4 separate regions of the Homo sapiens genome follow, and regions 1, 2 and 4 are each reported to be linked to region 3. The links are microRNA targets in miRTarBase. Many come from high-throughput screens and were not tested one by one. Region 3 holds a microRNA gene; each other region holds the end of a gene's coding sequence.

Evidence for each region. The annotated mature microRNA hsa-miR-4510 reads UGAGGGAGUAGGAUGUAUGGUU and lies in region 3 at 2,083-2,104, opposite strand. An mRNA with a match to its seed (bases 2 to 7 or 8) in the 3' UTR can be bound and repressed. Matches are read on the target gene's strand: a 7mer-m8 pairs with bases 2 to 8, a 7mer-A1 pairs with bases 2 to 7 and ends in A, and an 8mer does both.
Region 1: miRTarBase lists PSME3 as a target of hsa-miR-4510. Seed matches in the 3' UTR shown: 7mer-m8 at 988-994, 7mer-m8 at 1,379-1,385, 7mer-m8 at 1,468-1,474 and 7mer-m8 at 2,822-2,828.
Region 2: the mRNA of SHISAL1 is a reported target of hsa-miR-4510. Seed matches in the 3' UTR shown: 7mer-m8 at 2,809-2,815, 7mer-m8 at 2,435-2,441, 7mer-m8 at 650-656 and 7mer-A1 at 65-71.
Region 4: the mRNA of DCX is a reported target of hsa-miR-4510. Seed matches in the 3' UTR shown: 7mer-m8 at 2,972-2,978.

Annotation. Positions count from the first base shown.
Region 1 is chr17:42,840,900-42,844,899 of GRCh38, forward strand. It overlaps PSME3 (proteasome activator subunit 3), which reads left to right. Exons shown (of 11, transcript NM_005789.4): 11 at 599-2,861. The coding sequence ends at 679. It overlaps AOC2 (amine oxidase copper containing 2), which reads left to right and starts at 3,681. Exons shown (of 4, transcript NM_009590.4): 1 at 3,681-4,000. The coding sequence starts at 3,728.
Region 2 is chr22:44,246,481-44,250,480 of GRCh38, forward strand. It overlaps SHISAL1 (shisa like 1), which reads right to left. Exons shown (of 5, transcript NM_001099294.2): 5 at 1-3,205. The coding sequence ends at 3,205. Among named protein-coding and RNA genes, the nearest start is that of SHISAL1, 64 kb to the right of the region's middle.
Region 3 is chr15:35,924,635-35,928,966 of GRCh38, reverse strand. It overlaps MIR4510 (microRNA 4510), which reads right to left and starts at 2,111; the gene lies at 2,044-2,111. All of the region lies in intron 1 of LOC105370766 (a long non-coding RNA gene), which reads right to left.
Region 4 is chrX:111,297,962-111,301,961 of GRCh38, reverse strand. It overlaps DCX (doublecortin), which reads left to right. Exons shown (of 7, transcript NM_001195553.2): 7 at 219-4,000. The coding sequence ends at 275. Among named protein-coding and RNA genes, the nearest start is that of CAPN6, 29 kb to the right of the region's middle.

The DNA.
Region 1 (4,000 bases), not on the chromosome of region 3:
GAGGCGGGCGGATCACGAGGTCAGGAGATCGAGACCATCCTGGCTAACATGGTGAAACCCCATCTGTACTAAAAATAAAAAAAATTAGCCGGGTGTGGTGGCAGGCGCCTGTAGTCCCAGCTACTCAGGTGGCTGAGGCAGGAGAATGGCATGAACCTGGGAGGCGGAGGTTGCAGTCAGCCGAGATCGCGCCATTGCACTCCAGCCTGAGCGATAGAGCAAGACCGTGTCTCAAAAAAAAAAAAAAAAAAAAATACAGTAAGTCTTCACTTAATGTTGTCCATAGGTTCTTAGAAACTGCGACTTTAAAAATGATGTATATCAAAACCAAGTTTTTTTTTCATTAACATTGTAACAAAATGACATCGAACAAAATGATGTTATTTGAAACCAGGTTATTTGAGGACCTTCTGTACTTGATTTGCTTACCTGCTGTACTTTAATTTCCTTCAAGTCGCAGTTGCTAAGAACCTATTGATGACATTAAGGACTTACCGTATGCAGATGATTGCTTGGGGATTTGTGAAGGGGTCTCTCATTTTCTTGATGAGGTAAGGGTTGTACAGATATGTGATTCCCCTGATCCCTCTTCTCTCAGGTCACTCTACATGACATGATCCTGAAAAATATCGAGAAGATCAAACGGCCCCGGAGCAGCAATGCAGAGACTCTGTACTGAGGCCAGGGCCAGGGCCAGGGGACTCTGTGAGTCTGGCTCAAGACCGACATTGCCTTGGTTTGTTACATGACTATCGTGATGGGGAAACTGGCTGGAAATAGTAATCACACCTCTCTGTTTTTAGTTAGAGTCTAATGAAACTCTCATCTAGTTCTGTGATGTGTTTACCTCTTTTTTCAGGCCTCAGGAACTCTTCTATTTCCTTCCCTAATACCCCACACCCAACCTGTCGTAATTTCTGGAGAACTCCAGGTTTGTGTGTGCAGGATGTTGGCACAAAAATACCTGTGTTTTCATTCTCCCCCTCTCTCCCTCCTGTGTCTTGCGCTTTATGTTTTCTTCCGTTTGATAATTAGTTGGTTAAAAGCTGAGGGAACCGGAAGGAAAGTGCTAGGTGTTTTTTAGGAACTAGGGTGGCGGGGGGACGAACTTCTCTTCCTCACATGAGGTTACTGTTTCTTTCCTCTGTGGGGCATTGGATCCTCCCACAGTTGCCCTGGTGATGACTTAGGGCTTCCCATCTGTGTACATCCCACTTTGAATCTTGATCGTGACAAGAAATACCTTAGGCCTTCAGTCAATTCCGAAGCTCCTTCAGTTGTTTTTATAATGGGCGTTTTCACATGCACATATGTGTATGCATGTATACGCCCATACAGACATGCACACACAGACTCCTACTCCATTAGCTAACATACCCTCCCTCTCCACAACCCCTGTCACATACCTTTCAGGAGGTGACAGTTGTCTTAGTTGTCATCTACCCAGACAAACGTCCTGGGCCCGTCCTCCCTCCTGATACTGTAGCCTCTTGGTACCCAGGGTGAGTTGGTGGAGAACAGAGAGATGAGAAGCAGAGGGCTTGGGGAAAGCCTGTTCCTCTCTGACTCAGCCCTTTTTGGCATTATTGCAAGAGCTTGACTCCTGGTTGCCTTTTCCCAGCCAGTTTTCAGTTGGGGTGAAGGTTTCTGCAAGTGTGAGGTCCAGATGCTGCTGCTCATGTTGGGCTTTCCTTTTGGGAACTATTTCTCTTTATTTATAGTGTCGGGCTTCCGGGGAAAGCAATCATTGGTGTGTATGTGTATGTGCATGCACACACGTGCATATACACATTTGTGTATGTGGAAATGTGCTGGGCAAGTCAAAACTATAGAAGAGTTGCCTCCTGTCTCTCGAATCTTCCAGAGATATCACTTAATTGTTAACAGCTTTTGTGTTAATCCCCTTCAGCCCCTAGCTCTTTTATTCTACCACGGCTGGAGAGTTGATACCTGCAGTCAGCCTGCCAGTGACTCTTAGTGTCTGTTTCTGACTTATTTTTCCTGTCTCTGTCTTCCAACCCCCAATAATATTTCCACCGGGGATGCATCATTTTTACTCCCAATATTCTGTAGAGAGGGAGTCAGGATGCTGTCTTCCCACGAATAGTACTCAGTAACAAACCAATTGCATTTTAGTTGGGCAGTGCTCCCACCCACCCTCCAGATCCCTTCCAGCTAAAACCCTTCCCCCTTCCCTCCATGTGTTTCTCAGTTTCCCGTTTCGTTTGTTGGACTGTTCCACTGCCCCTCCTCCTCACCCTATCACCCATGGATCGTAATGTAAAATTCTTTTACCATGTCAAGAAATTATTAAAAATACAGGTACTTTGACCTCTTTCTAAAGCCGCAGACCCTGGTGCAATGCTCTGGTGGCTAGGGATGTACTCATGCTCATATGTGTGCACGCTTGGACACCCACCTCCATGGACACCTAGCCACCCTGTTGTGTGTCCTTATGCCAGTTGAGCTGAATCTTTTCCCCAGTATAGTGGAAAGACTGAGGCTTCTGCCTACTGAGCAAGGTTGGGTGCTTCATTTGTGTTCAGTCTGAATTATGGGAAAGTTAGCTCTTCCCAGACCTAAGCTGCCTTCTCTCCCTACTTTCAGAAGATCCTAGTTCCTTCCTTCCCGAGTGATACCCATGAACTGCCAGTAGAGGCTGCTATCGTTCCATGTGTAAGGAATGAACTGGTTCAAGGCGCGTCCTACCCAGTCATTTTCTTTACCTTATACTAATTCTTCCTGAATAATGTCTTCAGTTTCTTGAGGAGACTCCTAGTTTTGGTTTTCAAATTACTTGGAGGGCTGCCTAGGAATCTATCTCCCTCTGAAATAAAGTTTCCTCATCTTCCACCTTGCAAGTAGCCTTCTGGTTTCCAATGATCCCCTCGTTGTCTCTGTAAAAAGAGTTTAAGGTCTTGAACAATGGAGGAGCAGCTGCTCTGTTCTGTTTCAGAGATGACTACCAAAAGCTAGCGGTTTGTGAGTGCCTCCCCTGTGCCAGGCTGTTAAGTACCTAATGTGCATGATCACATTTAATCTTCAGGAATCTATAGGATAGTTGTATCTATTTGTTACAGATGAGGACACTGAGACTCAGGATAAGTATTTCCGCTAAGGTTACACAGCTGAGGGAACTGGGATTGGTGGACAAACCTGATTACTAAGCCCAGGCCCTCAGCCACTCCACTGGTTGGAAATGGCCTGACTACAAATCAAGGGCTTGGCATTAGGCAACAAGTAGAATTCAGTGCTTACTGCTGAACATGGCAGTGAATCCTGGAGCTGTTGGGATGCAGTTCCTGCCAGGAGGTAGGAAAATGGACAGCTTAGTGCTTGCATGCAGGCTGCAGAACTTAATTGGGCATCTGAGGTTTGTACTCTTCCTGAGACCCATTCCAGGTGGAAACTGGAGGTTAGCATCGTTAACCCAGATTCCCTTTCATCTGGTCTAAATGATGGAAATCAGTAGTTGGTACTGACTGCTACCAGTGGGAGTTCAGGGGCAAGGAAGAGGCTATGCATGTGGAAGCAGTGCCCTGGGCCAAACCACAGGACAGAAAATTGGAACAGAATTACATAAATCAAGGTCAGAAATTTCCTGCCCAACCCATGGGGTGGAGTTTTCTCCCTTCCTATCCATCCTAGCGAATATAAACCCCGACTTGATGTCAGTAACTGGAAGGAGCAGCTGTTAGAATTCTGATTTCAGCTCTCAGCATCCACCATGCATCTCAAGATAGTCCTGGCGTTCCTGGCACTGTCCCTCATTACCATCTTTGCCCTGGCCTATGTTTTGCTGACCAGCCCAGGTGGTTCCAGCCAGCCTCCCCACTGCCCCTCTGTATCCCATAGGGCCCAGCCCTGGCCACACCCTGGCCAGAGCCAGCTGTTTGCAGACCTGAGCCGAGAGGAGTTGACAGCTGTGATGCGCTTTCTGACCCAGCGGCTGGGGCCAGGGCTGGTGGACGCAGCCCAGGCTCAGCCCTCGGACAACTGC
Region 2 (4,000 bases), not on the chromosome of region 3:
TCTAGCTATGCTTGAACTCGTCACTACCCTGCATCCATCTTGTTCTCAGGGACAGTCTACTCCTTGAGGGACCTTCCAGCCACAACCACAGCAGGATGGGGACAGTGTTTATCACAATGACCTGGGGACCCATGGCATTTTGAGGAGCCCTTGACACCATTGGGGGATTGAATACACACACACCTGCTTTCCACACTGAGTGTTCACACCCACATGCACACTGTTCTCACCTGTCGGCTCCTCTGTGAGACAGCAAGTACCGTGACTAACTGGTACCCTACCTCACACACTTGACAGGTGAGAAGCAGAGGCTCTGAGAGGTTAAGTGGCTCGTGGGGGTGACCTGCAGGAAGGAGGATGCCGTGGCTGTCTGCACCAGGTGTGCTGGGTCTTGGTGATCTCTGCTGAGGCCTCCTGCTTGCCACAGAATGTTCCAGTCCTCAGCCCAGCTGCCCAAGAGGGACTTGGCAGAGCAGCAGGACCACAAACCCCATGGGTTTTTCAGTTATTCCTGAAAAGACCTCTTGCGGGGAGGGGGGCAGGCAGGAGGAATGTCCTCCTAGAAGGTTGTACATCTCAAGGGATGCTTAGGTGAACCCCAGTTCTAGCTGTCTATTTGGCAGTGACCTTTGACCCCAGGTGTCCAGGAGAGGGAGGCAAGGCCACCAGTTCCTTTTTGGCAGAGGAAGCACCTACAGAGCATTGTCCAGGACAGCAGGACACGAGGGTTGCAAACTCCTTAAATACCCATCTGACTCCTTCCTCTTACCGATGGGGAAACTGAGGTAACAGACCTTGCCTGAGGTCACGCTGTTCTCAGTGGCAGAGCTGATGTCAGAATCTGGGTCTTGGGCCCCCACCTCAAGGCTTCCTCTGCCTTCTGAGGCACTGCACGTGGGACACAGCTGTGGCTTCCGCAGCTGGGCTAGTGGACAGGCTGTGCACCCCCTTACGGCAACATGGCCCTGGGACGGCTCACATCAGGGGAGAGGAAGCCATTCCTTTCTCCAATCGAGACCCCAAGCAGAGGTTCTCCCACTTTGCCAAGCCATATGCCTGGACACTGGCAGCACTGCCTGGAGGAGACAGCTGGACCCAAAGACTGAAGCCAGGGGCCTGGGTCTTCCACAGCTGACCTGTGTGATCCTGGGCAAGCCACTTGACCCAGCTGAGTCTGTCTTCTTGTCCATAAAATGGGGAGAGCCCCTTCTTCATGGGGCTGTTGAGAGGATGGACAGCCAGGCAGAATGGAGGATGCTTTATACCCTAGCAAGTTTGTTCTGCTTTTCCAAAGGCAGGACATTGTGTTTGCACAGCTTGACTCACAGCAGAGCCCAGAGCTGGGCACTATCACCCTCATCTCCTTCTGCCTTCCCTCTGGGTCCCCAGCCACCTGGCTTTCTTGTGCCACCTGGCTTTCTTGTGCTTCCTTGAAACCACCAAGCCTGTGGCTGCCGCAGGATCTTTGCACTAGCCGTTCCTTCTGCCTGGAATGCTCTTTTCCTATCTTTAACGCCCATTACTGGCTCCTGTGTGTCATTCAAATCTGGGCTTCAATCATCTGCTCAAGGCGGCCTTCCCAGACCACCCCAGGTCCACAAGGGTCTCACTCACGTGTCCCTCGAACTGAGTTCCTGGCACTGAGTTCCCGGCAGAGCACTCACTGCCTTCGCCACCTTCCTTCTTCACTGTCTTCCTGCCCCAGCTAGAAAGCTAGCACAGTGAGCAGGGACCTGCCTTGCTCACTGTCGTGTCTGGTGAATGGATGGGTGGTCAGTGTGAGAACACTAGGTCTGATGAAATGAGGAAACTGCGTCAGAGGACACACACATTGATCAAGCAGGGCCTCCCGAGCTAAGAGCTGGGGGAGATTTGGTATCACTAACACCCATGGAATGAGTGTGTCTACACTGGCAGCATGGCCTTTGGAGATGTTTGTGATGATTTAGGTGATGCCATCTCATAGGTGTCCCAGGGCAGCGGGGCAGGAGTGGGGGTGATTAGCTCGGTGGGTGGATGTTACGGGCATGGAAGTCCTACTTGAAAGTGGATGGATTTCTAGAACGCTCCTGCCTGGGTTTCCATGGCCTTGTTACCCTTTCCAGCAAAGATCCACGTGTCTGTGTCTCCCACCAGATGGGAGGCTCCCCGGGGGCAGAGATGAGATCTAACTCATCTTTCATTCCCATCACTGCCCAGCACGGGGCCTGGCACACAGCAGATGCTTAGCCAGAATGTGCTGAGTGGATCAGCGCTCCAGGCGGTGATGGTGGAGGCATCAAGGAGATGCTCCCAGCATTGTGCAGGGTGTACCCCGGCTGGCGAGCATGTCACGTCCAGGGAGTTGGAGCCTGGACTTTGGGTTCCGGCACCGCTTCCCCACTGTGAGTTTTTCTGCAGGGGGTTAATCATACCTGCCTCCCAGGTGGTGAGAGAGGGAGTGCATGAAAACACTTAACTTGGCACCTGCCCTGTGGTCAGCCTGAGATGCAGCCCTTAGTATTACTATTGTTACAGGAACGAATTCTGTAAGAAACAACCCTGACTGGCATTTTCAAATCCCCAGTGCTCCCCGAGACACAGAGGGGCCGTACCCTGTGCTTAGCAATAAGCTTGCGGCTCGGACATTGACACGGATGAGAACCCCCAGCCGGAGGGTGACTCATGCCCATCAGAGAACTTGAGGGGGGAAGCCCCAATAAAAACCAACCAACCAAGCAAACAAAAAGAACACCCCAAATCACACACACGCACACACACACGCACATTCAATATTCTGACACAAATAGCCCCAAGGGGCCACTACTGGAGGGAGCAGGGGCAAGGGAAGCTTCGGTTTTCAACCACAGGTATAACTCACAGGCCTCAATCCTCCTGGCTGGAATCAGCCAGAGTTGCTTTGTCTTGGTCATCCTGAGTCCACAATGAGTCACCTCTCAGAAGCCACCAGCCCAAAATAGGACTATTGCTTGCGGACAGGTGGCTCAGAATCCCCTCCCCTGCACCCCCAGCCCCTACCCCTGAGTTTGCTCCTAATCTTAGAAGTCCGCGGAAGGGGGCTTTGGGCACAGGCAGCATTTCCTCCTGTGCCACCGCCGCTACCTCGGCTGTCCCTGGCATCTCTGTAGAAGTTGTTCTTCTCGGAGGCTGCACCGGGTGCTTCAGATCTCATCTCCCCCATCCTGAGGCACAGCAAAAGCGTTTTCTGGAGGAAATACAAGGAAAAAAAGTATCACATGGTGTCTCCTCCATGGGGACATTTCTCTCTGGCCTCAGTGCCGGAAGAAGCCAGGTTTTCTCTGAGCATGTGGGTTTTGTCTTCTGAACATTGCGAACCATGTGACTTTAAGACTGGAAGAAAGAAAAAAAATGTCTGCTATCATTATAGCTCCATATAGTACTAGAGCTCTGGCCCATGCAATAAGACAAGAAAAATAAGCATAGAATAGGACTGGAATAGAAGAACCAAAATTACAGTTAATTGTGGATAACTTACATAGAAAATTTAACAGAATCAACAGGTTAATTAGTAGAATGGAGAGTGCAGACATAGACGTATAATAGTCAACCTATAAGACATCAGATCAATTTATAAAATGCAACAGTGTGCACTGACCTCAGCAATTACTAGGGTAATTATATGTCATGGCTTGGGACAGTCTCAGTTAACACTTGTTCTGACATAATTTTTAATGTTGTTCCCCTTTTATCCTCAAAAGTATTCTGATTTGGCTGATAAATTATATGGTCACCATTGCCATAACAAACTAAATATTAAACACAGATACAGATACCATTCATATTGACAAAAACCATTATGTATTTTGGAATGGCACTAATATATGACCATGTCATACAAAGCTATAAAGAAGAGACCAAGGTGCTCCTGGAATAGGGAAAAGCCAGGAGACCAGTGGAACAAGATCTACAGTGTGGAAACAGATCTGCGGGGCACTTACTTATAGCTTTGATTGGCAGAGTCAAGTTGCAAACAAGACAA
Region 3 (4,332 bases):
TAACTCCTGTCTAGTGCTGTGTTCCAGTTGTCTACTGCTGTCTAACAAACCACCTTAAAACTTCAGGCAATTAAGACAAAACTTATTTAATATTTCTTAAGGCCAGGGGGTTGATTGTGCCCAACTGGTTGGTTTTCACCTGAGGTCTCTCAAGCACTTACAGGCAGCTGTCATCTAGGCCTGCAGTCACCCAAAAGCTCAGCTGGGCTAGAAGTTCAATATGGTACGCTTACATGTCTGGTAGTTGATACTAGCTGTCAGTTTTTGAAAGCTTAGCTAGGCTGGAGCAGCTAATCACGGCTTTGTTGTATGGTTCCTGCTTCTCACTGCAGAGACTGGGTTCTTGGAAGAAATGTCCTATGAGCAAATATTCCAAAATGTAGGGATCAGGAGTTGCTGGGCTACTTAAGGGCCATATGCAGAACCTCAGTTGTATATTATTGAATAGAGCAATCACATGGCCTACTCAGATTCAAAGTGGTTGGAAAAATAAACTTCTAATGGTGTAAGGACAAAATCACAATGAAGAAGAGTGTGTAAAGTAGCAAATTATATTGTGACCATCTTTGGAAAATATGATCTATCACATCCTCCAAGAGCTCTCTGTACTCTGGAATCAAAGCAGATATAAAGAATACAAATAAGTATTTTGGGAATATTATTTAAGGCATGGTATAAAGTTATGTAAGCACTGAACTGTAAGATGTAGTGACTTTGACATGTAAAGAAATTGATTATTTAATTGTGAGGACAGGAAAGAGCTCTAGACCAAAATTCTCCTTCTGGCTGTATATTTTATTAGCTATGTAGCCTTGGGATAGTAACTGGGCCTTCTAACTGTGTCTATATAACAAGAGGTCTGGATTGGATAATCTGTAAGAGACATTATCATTCTTAATAACTAGGAAACCATGGGCTTGATGCCTATTTGCTTACTGCGGGTCAGGGAGAATAATATGGTGAATGAATTGCTTATAAATCAAAATAACACATTTTGAACAGGGTTTGCTTTTCTGGGAATCAATAATTGACATTAAATACTGTAGAGAAAGTTATTGATGACATTGATTGTTAGATTAGTCCTTTGGCTCTAGAGTCAAAGGAAGGCATTTCCTAATGATCTTCTATAATATACAAACTTTAAGTTTCTTTTCTATGTATTTCACTCTAATGTGAACTCAAATAATCTCTGACCTGCTAACAGATGTGGAAGCTGACAAATTTATTTGTAAGCAGAATAATTACCTCTTAATATTGATTTGTAAATCCATGTTGCCATTCATTGAATTTCTCCAAGTAGAAACAAGATATATCCAGGTCTACGACTGTGGATGGCTACATGTGGATCCCTACTTAATATTGAATGAGACAATGCATATCTGTCACAAGGTAATATATGATAGCTGTATCTAATTGCATATAAAAGAGGACCAAGCCAATTGACATCTCTCTGCTCTCAAGAAAACAATGTGAGCAGGACATAGATGTGTCTTGTGTTCCACACAGGGGGATTTTGGAGTTGTGGTAAATGAGATGGATTCTCTCCAGCGAACAAACCAAGAAAGGGTTGGAAAACAATATAAAATGGTCAGACATCTTCTGGATAGAGATTGTAGCGGAGTTTAGCATAGGATATGAGCCTTGCTAGGTTTTTCTATAATGACAAGTTTAAACAGGACCAATTTGCATTTTTATAAACAGCAATCACTTCCTAGAATTCTAGGGTTTCCCAAATCAAACTCCTGAATGTCAGTCTCTCCCACTTCAGTCATGGGTAACTGCCCTCTCTCTGAGCATTACCCCTCATTTATCTTAAGGAAAATGATAGACCAGTTTGTAGCATATCCTAAATTCTCTACTTAAATTGTGCTGCAATAGACACACAATGAGACACCATCAACTAAGCAACCACTGAATGACTATTACATACAAGACACTGTATTGGAGGCTATCAAAGGGTATATTCATTCATTCATTCTTCTTCTTTTTTTTTTTTTTTGCTTATTCCATGAACATTTCTGAGTGCCTACTTAATGACAGGCTCTGTCTGTTGTGAGAAAAGATTGTAGTTGTCTATCTAACAACCATACATCCTACTCCCTCACATACACACTATTCCACAGAGGCAACCTGGTATTCATCTTAAAGGCAACAACTCTGGGGCCAGATCACCTGAGTTACAACCCTGCTGTCACTACTGAATAACAGTGTGACCTTAATTAATTAATTAATTAATTAATTAATTAATTTATTTATTTAATACAAGGTTATCTTGCTGTCTCACCAAGGGTGAAGTGCTTTGGCATGTCCATAGCTCACTGCACCCTCAAACTCTTGGGTTCGAAGGATCCTCCAGGTTCAGCCTCTTGAGTAGCTAGAACTACAGGTCCACACAATCACACCTGGTTAATTTTTAATTTTTTTTGTAGATATGGGGTTTCACTATGTTGCCCAGGATGGACTCAAACTCCTGGCCTCAACCCATCTTCCCACCACTGCCTCCCAAAGTACTGGGATTATAGGCATGAGCCGCTGTGCCTGGCCCTTAAGTTACTTAATATCTTGATAAGTTATAGATAATAACCACCTCATATAATTTTTGTATTAAATGATTTAATACACATTTCTATATCTCTTTATGTATGTTTAATAACTCTTAGAATAGTGCCTCCCTTGTTGTAAGTGCTGTGTAAGAGTTGATTTTGTTCAAGTCTTGGTAGGCCATATCCTTCAAAGGAGACTAAGTCCCTTCTCAGCTGAAGGTGCATATCAACTCTGGTTGAAATGACTCATGTAAATTCCATTCTCTTGTCCATGATGTAATGTCATTCTGTCCAGTAAAATGTGAGGGGAAGTCTGGGGTGGATTTCTAGTACAGTTTTTCTGACTTTTATGAAAGAACATAAGGAAGAGATGGTCTATCTTCTCACCTCTGGAAGTTATTGTTGAGGATATAAGGTTGGAGTAACTTGGGGATGTGAGGGGCCACGTAAGGACAAACACGAACATTCCAAAGATGGCAGAACAAAATGTGGAAATGAAATGGATCCCTGAGCCATTCATTGAGCCCTTGAAGTCAGTGATCTTGGAACATACAACAGGACTTGTCAGACAATAAAGATAACAAAGCCCTCATTGTATGAGTCATTTTGCTTGTTTTCTGTTACTTGCTGGTGAGGTCATCAGGTGAACTGACACATCGTTCTTCCCTGATCATGAGGATTCATGGTATCATTAAAATTTCTTTTTTATTTAAACAAATATGAGAAACGAAACACGCTCAGACTTTCTAGTAAGGAAAAACAAAAGCCCACCTCAGAGGACGAATAAGCAAGCCATTTACCCTAATTCAGGTGTGTGGTATTTATTTTAATATGTATAAAAATTACAATAGATACAAGTGTAAAATGGTGTGAGATTGATTTCATCAGTCTTGTCACATAAGAAGAATAAACCTCTGGGTCACTCTCCGCTGCACGATGGCATAATAAATAAGGAAAACATGGTCATGACTCCTTCTCTATGAGAGATGCGATAGTTGATTAAGTGCAATCTATTAGTAGCTGCCAGTAACAAGAAAGGTTAATTTAAACCAGATAGTCTCAGGTTTCAACCTCTTCTATGGCTGCAAATCTGGATAGGTGTCCTTTGCTTACTGGTTCAAGCTACTGACAGGCAGACCTGAAATGGTTTTGGCTTCTGTCTGTGGCCCCAGAGCCAGGCAATCCAATAACAGTCTTTTCCCTTTAACTCTCAAACATAGGGATGATAGTGGCTTTTTGCTACTGTAATGTCTGGGTTGCCTTATTATCATTTGTTTGGCTTCTCAGCACCTCCCTCTATTAAAATTCCTCCTATCTGGAGTGACTATTGTTGTCCTGATTGATACGCTATCCTTGGTTTTATTCTGAACTATGGAAATCATAGACATTAGTTGTAACATCCAAGACTCAACCTTGACTTCTCCCAGTGATCCTACCTTTCCAATCATTGGTGATCATACCATCTTCAGTTGTATTTCAGAGGGGACTTACATGCCCCTGATTGCATGTATTCCCCAGACAAGGTCAACCTGGTTGAAACACAGCCTCAGTCTAGTATATCAATGTGTAATTAGTTCATTGTTTCATTTGACCTATGAATAACTATGACCAAGAGGGTATCAGAATTTATACAAAGCCATGTTATTATGGAATTCTAATATAGTTTGCTTTGCTATATATGATGGTGTTTTCATGAGGAGACTTTCATATATAAATAATAGAGAAAACTTGTAACATGGACTGTCCCACATAAGCAAAGCCACAACAAAAAACACATGAAAAGAACTAT
Region 4 (4,000 bases), not on the chromosome of region 3:
GATCACATGTTAAACTGCAAGATGGTACCATTAGGGAAAATTGAATGAAGGGTACATTGGTACAAGGGTACCTCCCTGTACATTTTTTCAACTTCCTGTGAATCTATAATTATTATGTTGTAAAAATTAAAGTATTAATAAAAAAAACTAAAGCAGACATTCCAGAGCTCAAGATATCAAGAAAAGGAAAATTAACTTTGTCTCTTCTCTTCTTATAGGACCTGTACCTGCCTCTGTCCTTGGATGACTCGGACTCGCTTGGTGATTCCATGTAAAGGAGGGGAGAGTGCTCAGAGTCCAGAGTACAAATCCAAGCCTATCATTGTAGTAGGGTACTTCTGCTCAAGTGTCCAACAGGGCTATTGGTGCTTTCAAGTTTTTATTTTGTTGTTGTTGTTATTTTGAAAAACACATTGTAATATGTTGGGTTTATTTTCCTGTGATTTCTCCTCTGGGCCACTGATCCACAGTTACCAATTATGAGAGATAGATTGATAACCATCCTTTGGGGCAGCATTCCAGGGATGCAAAATGTGCTAGTCCATGACCTTTCAATGGAAAGCTTAGGTGCCTGCGTTATATTTGCCCTGTCTAATTTTGCCCATACAGTCTTCCTTCTGTAGAGGGCTGTTTACATATACAGCACTTAAAATGTTTGTGTGGGAAAAAAAAAACTCATTGGCAGATCCAAGAATGACAAACACAAGTGCCCCTTTTCTCTGGATCTCAAGAATGGTGGAGGACCCTGGAAGGACAGCAAGGCAGCTCCCCAGCCTCACTCTTCACTCCTGATTGAGGCCCGGGTTTGTTGTCCAGCACCAATTCTGGCTGTCAATGGGGAGAAATAAACCAACAACTTATAATTGTGACACCAGATGCTTAGGATCCTGGTGCTGGGTTAGCTAAGAGAATAGACAGAATTGGAAAATACTGCAGACATTTCCGAAGAGTTTATAAAGCACAGTGAATTCCTGGTCAATCTCTCCACTGAGGCAATTTGGAATCAATAAGCAATTGATAATAGTTTGGAGTAAGGGACTTCATATACCTGATTCCTCTAGAAGGCTGTCTAACATACCACATGATTACATGAACTGTATGGTATCCATCTATCTCTGTTCTATTGAATGCCTTGTTAACAGCCAACACTGAAAACACTGTGAGAATTTGTTTTCAGGTCTGACACCTTTCAGTCTCTTTTTATAGCAAGAAATCAATATCCTTTTTATAAAAATTCATGTCTGTATTTCAGGAGCAAACTCTTCAGGCTCCTTTTTTATAAACTGGTGATTTTTCTTTTGTCTAAAAAACACATGAAGAAAATTTACCAAAAAAAAAAAAAAAAGCAGAAGAATAATGTAGTTTAGAAATTATGCTGTCACTGCCAAACAGTAACCTCCAGGAGAAAACAAGATGAATAGCAGAGGCCAATTCAATAGAATCAGTTTTTTGATAGCTTTTTAACAGTTATGCTTGCATTAATAATTTCAATGTGGACCAGACATTCTAATTATATTTTAAATGAAATGTTACAGCATATTTTAAGCAACTCTTTTTATCTATAATCCTAATATTTCATACTGAAGACACAGAAATCTTTCACTTGTCTTTAACATTAGAAAGGATTTCTCTTTACTAAGGACTGATCATTTGAAATAGTTTTCAGTCTTTTGAGATACAGGTTTATAACACTGCTTTTTTTTTTCTGTAATCATAGCCCATAATGGCAAAGACAACTAAATTTAAGTGAAGGTCATGCATGCCAATTCTGTGTTTGCTTTTAGCAGATATGAAGATTTCCTTATTTCTTTGTAATTGTGCAGATATTTTGAAAGGCACAGCATTCGAAGCCAAGCTGCTGTTTGGCTACTGAATGGCTTGCAGTTGTTCCTCCACTCTAAATGGAATGAGCTTGCTGTGTGTGTGTGTGGTGGTGGTGGGAGGGGGTGGTGCATGTGTGTGTGTGTGTGTGCATCTGCAGCTGCTTCAAAATTAGGAAATACTACAGGACACCCCTGTAATGGATTGGTGGCAACTGGGTGGCACTGCTGATGTGCACTGTGTAGGGGGGAACCCAGTGGTGGTGGGGTAGCTCAGATGCCCCTAGACAAGCTTCAGATGTCTGTAGCTACCAGAAACATTTTCGGTTCAGGAAAAGTGAGATGATGGTAGTACTGGTTTCTGGTGAAATTGAAGAACCCCAAATGATGAGGATCTCTTTTTGCCCCCTCTCCTTTTTTTGTAGACCCATTCAAAACCATTAATAAGCCCATTTTACTAAGCCCCTATTTCTTTCTAGAAGCTCAGGGTTTTCTTAGTGCCTCCCAGAACATTTTGTAGTTAATTGGGAAAAAGTGATACTTGGATTAGGGGGTGTGGGCATAAAGAATGGTGGGAGGCCTGATTTTAAACTTCAGGCCAGAACCCCCAATGACTCCACCCATAGTCTCACTTTAGGTCTCATTTAGTCCATCACCTTTATTTTAAGTTGAGGAAGTGGAGGCTGGTAAAGAGCAGGACCAGAGGAAGAATCCAGATTTCCTTATGCTTGGGCCTCACACTAGCTCTCTGAGTATTTCCTTGATTGCGGTATATGTACTACTAGAAAATACCAAATGGATATATTTTCTTTAGGATAACCTTTGAACCAACAATCTTCAATAACAATAGTACATCTTCCATCTTACTTTTAATCGAGTATAAGGAAATGTTTCTTTATGGCCATTTTGGAGGGAGCAGGGGATGAGGCTTGGCATAGTCCAAAATTTAAGTCTCCAATAATTAATTGCATTTTAAATTGGCCCACTTTCAAGGCAATTTTTTTTGTGTGTCTGTAACTGAGCTCCTCCACCCCTGTCATTCACTTCCAATTTTACCCAATCCAATTTTAGCACTCAAGTTCCATTGTGTTAATTTCTGCACGGTCAACAAACATCAAGTCAGCAAGCATTTGCCACCACTCCCTATACTTCTCCCTCCTTCTTACACACACACACACACACACACACACAATCCATCTCTTGCTTGTTCCTACCTCCTGATTTTTCTTCCCTACAGAAATAGAAATAGGGACAAAGAAGGGGAAAATGTATATATTGGGGCTGGGCTGAACAACTAACTTCATAAGTAGTATTAACTAGGGGTAAATTGAGAGAAAAGCTCCTTTTCTCTTCACTGTTTTGGAAAGGATAGCCATTAGCATGACTGCTTTGTGTCCTTATGGACTTTAGTATTAGCCTAGATTGAATTATAGCGTTTTCTAGCTGGAAGGAACCTTAAGATCACATCATCTACTCCTCTACTCCAAATTTCTCATTCTTCAGGCCAGGAAACCGAGACACAGAGGTAAAGTAATTTCCCCAAGGTCACACAGCTGGCTGGGGCAGGATTGGGTTTACAACCCACATCTCCTGGCTCTTATTCCAGGGCCTTTTCCCACTAAGTAGTATTGCCTTCCATTAGGCTCCTGAGAGTTATTTCTCAGGGTCATGTTGCATCTTGGAGCCACATGCTGCTGCCCTGATCTCAGTGGGAAATCCACCCAGCAACCTAATACAGCCCCTTTTCCCTGCATTCACCTGGTTCCCATCCACATGGGTTGCAGATGTCCTTGAAGAGAGTGAGGCATTGAGGGCCAATAGGAGCAATGGGGTCCCTGGCCTTGTCCATCTGATTCAGGAGATCACTGCTCCATCGTGAGGAGCCCTCTGAATAGCCCCCCACTGAATGCTTGCCTTGCCCAAATGGAATGGAGGAAGATTGATTTTCTCCATCAGTTCACCTTGTGTCATCTCATAATGGTTGGTCTTTCCAGGCTGAGGGAAATGTTTCTTGTTTCCAGAGTAGAAAAAGAAAGAGTGGAACAATAGCTTTGTTCATCCTAACTTTCTGAGATGGCTTTTCAACATTTTAAAAAAACTAGTGTGGCTACCATTCACTGGCAATGATTTCTTTTAGAATATGGGAGTAAGATGAGCTAGAGAAAATAACCTGGTCTCAC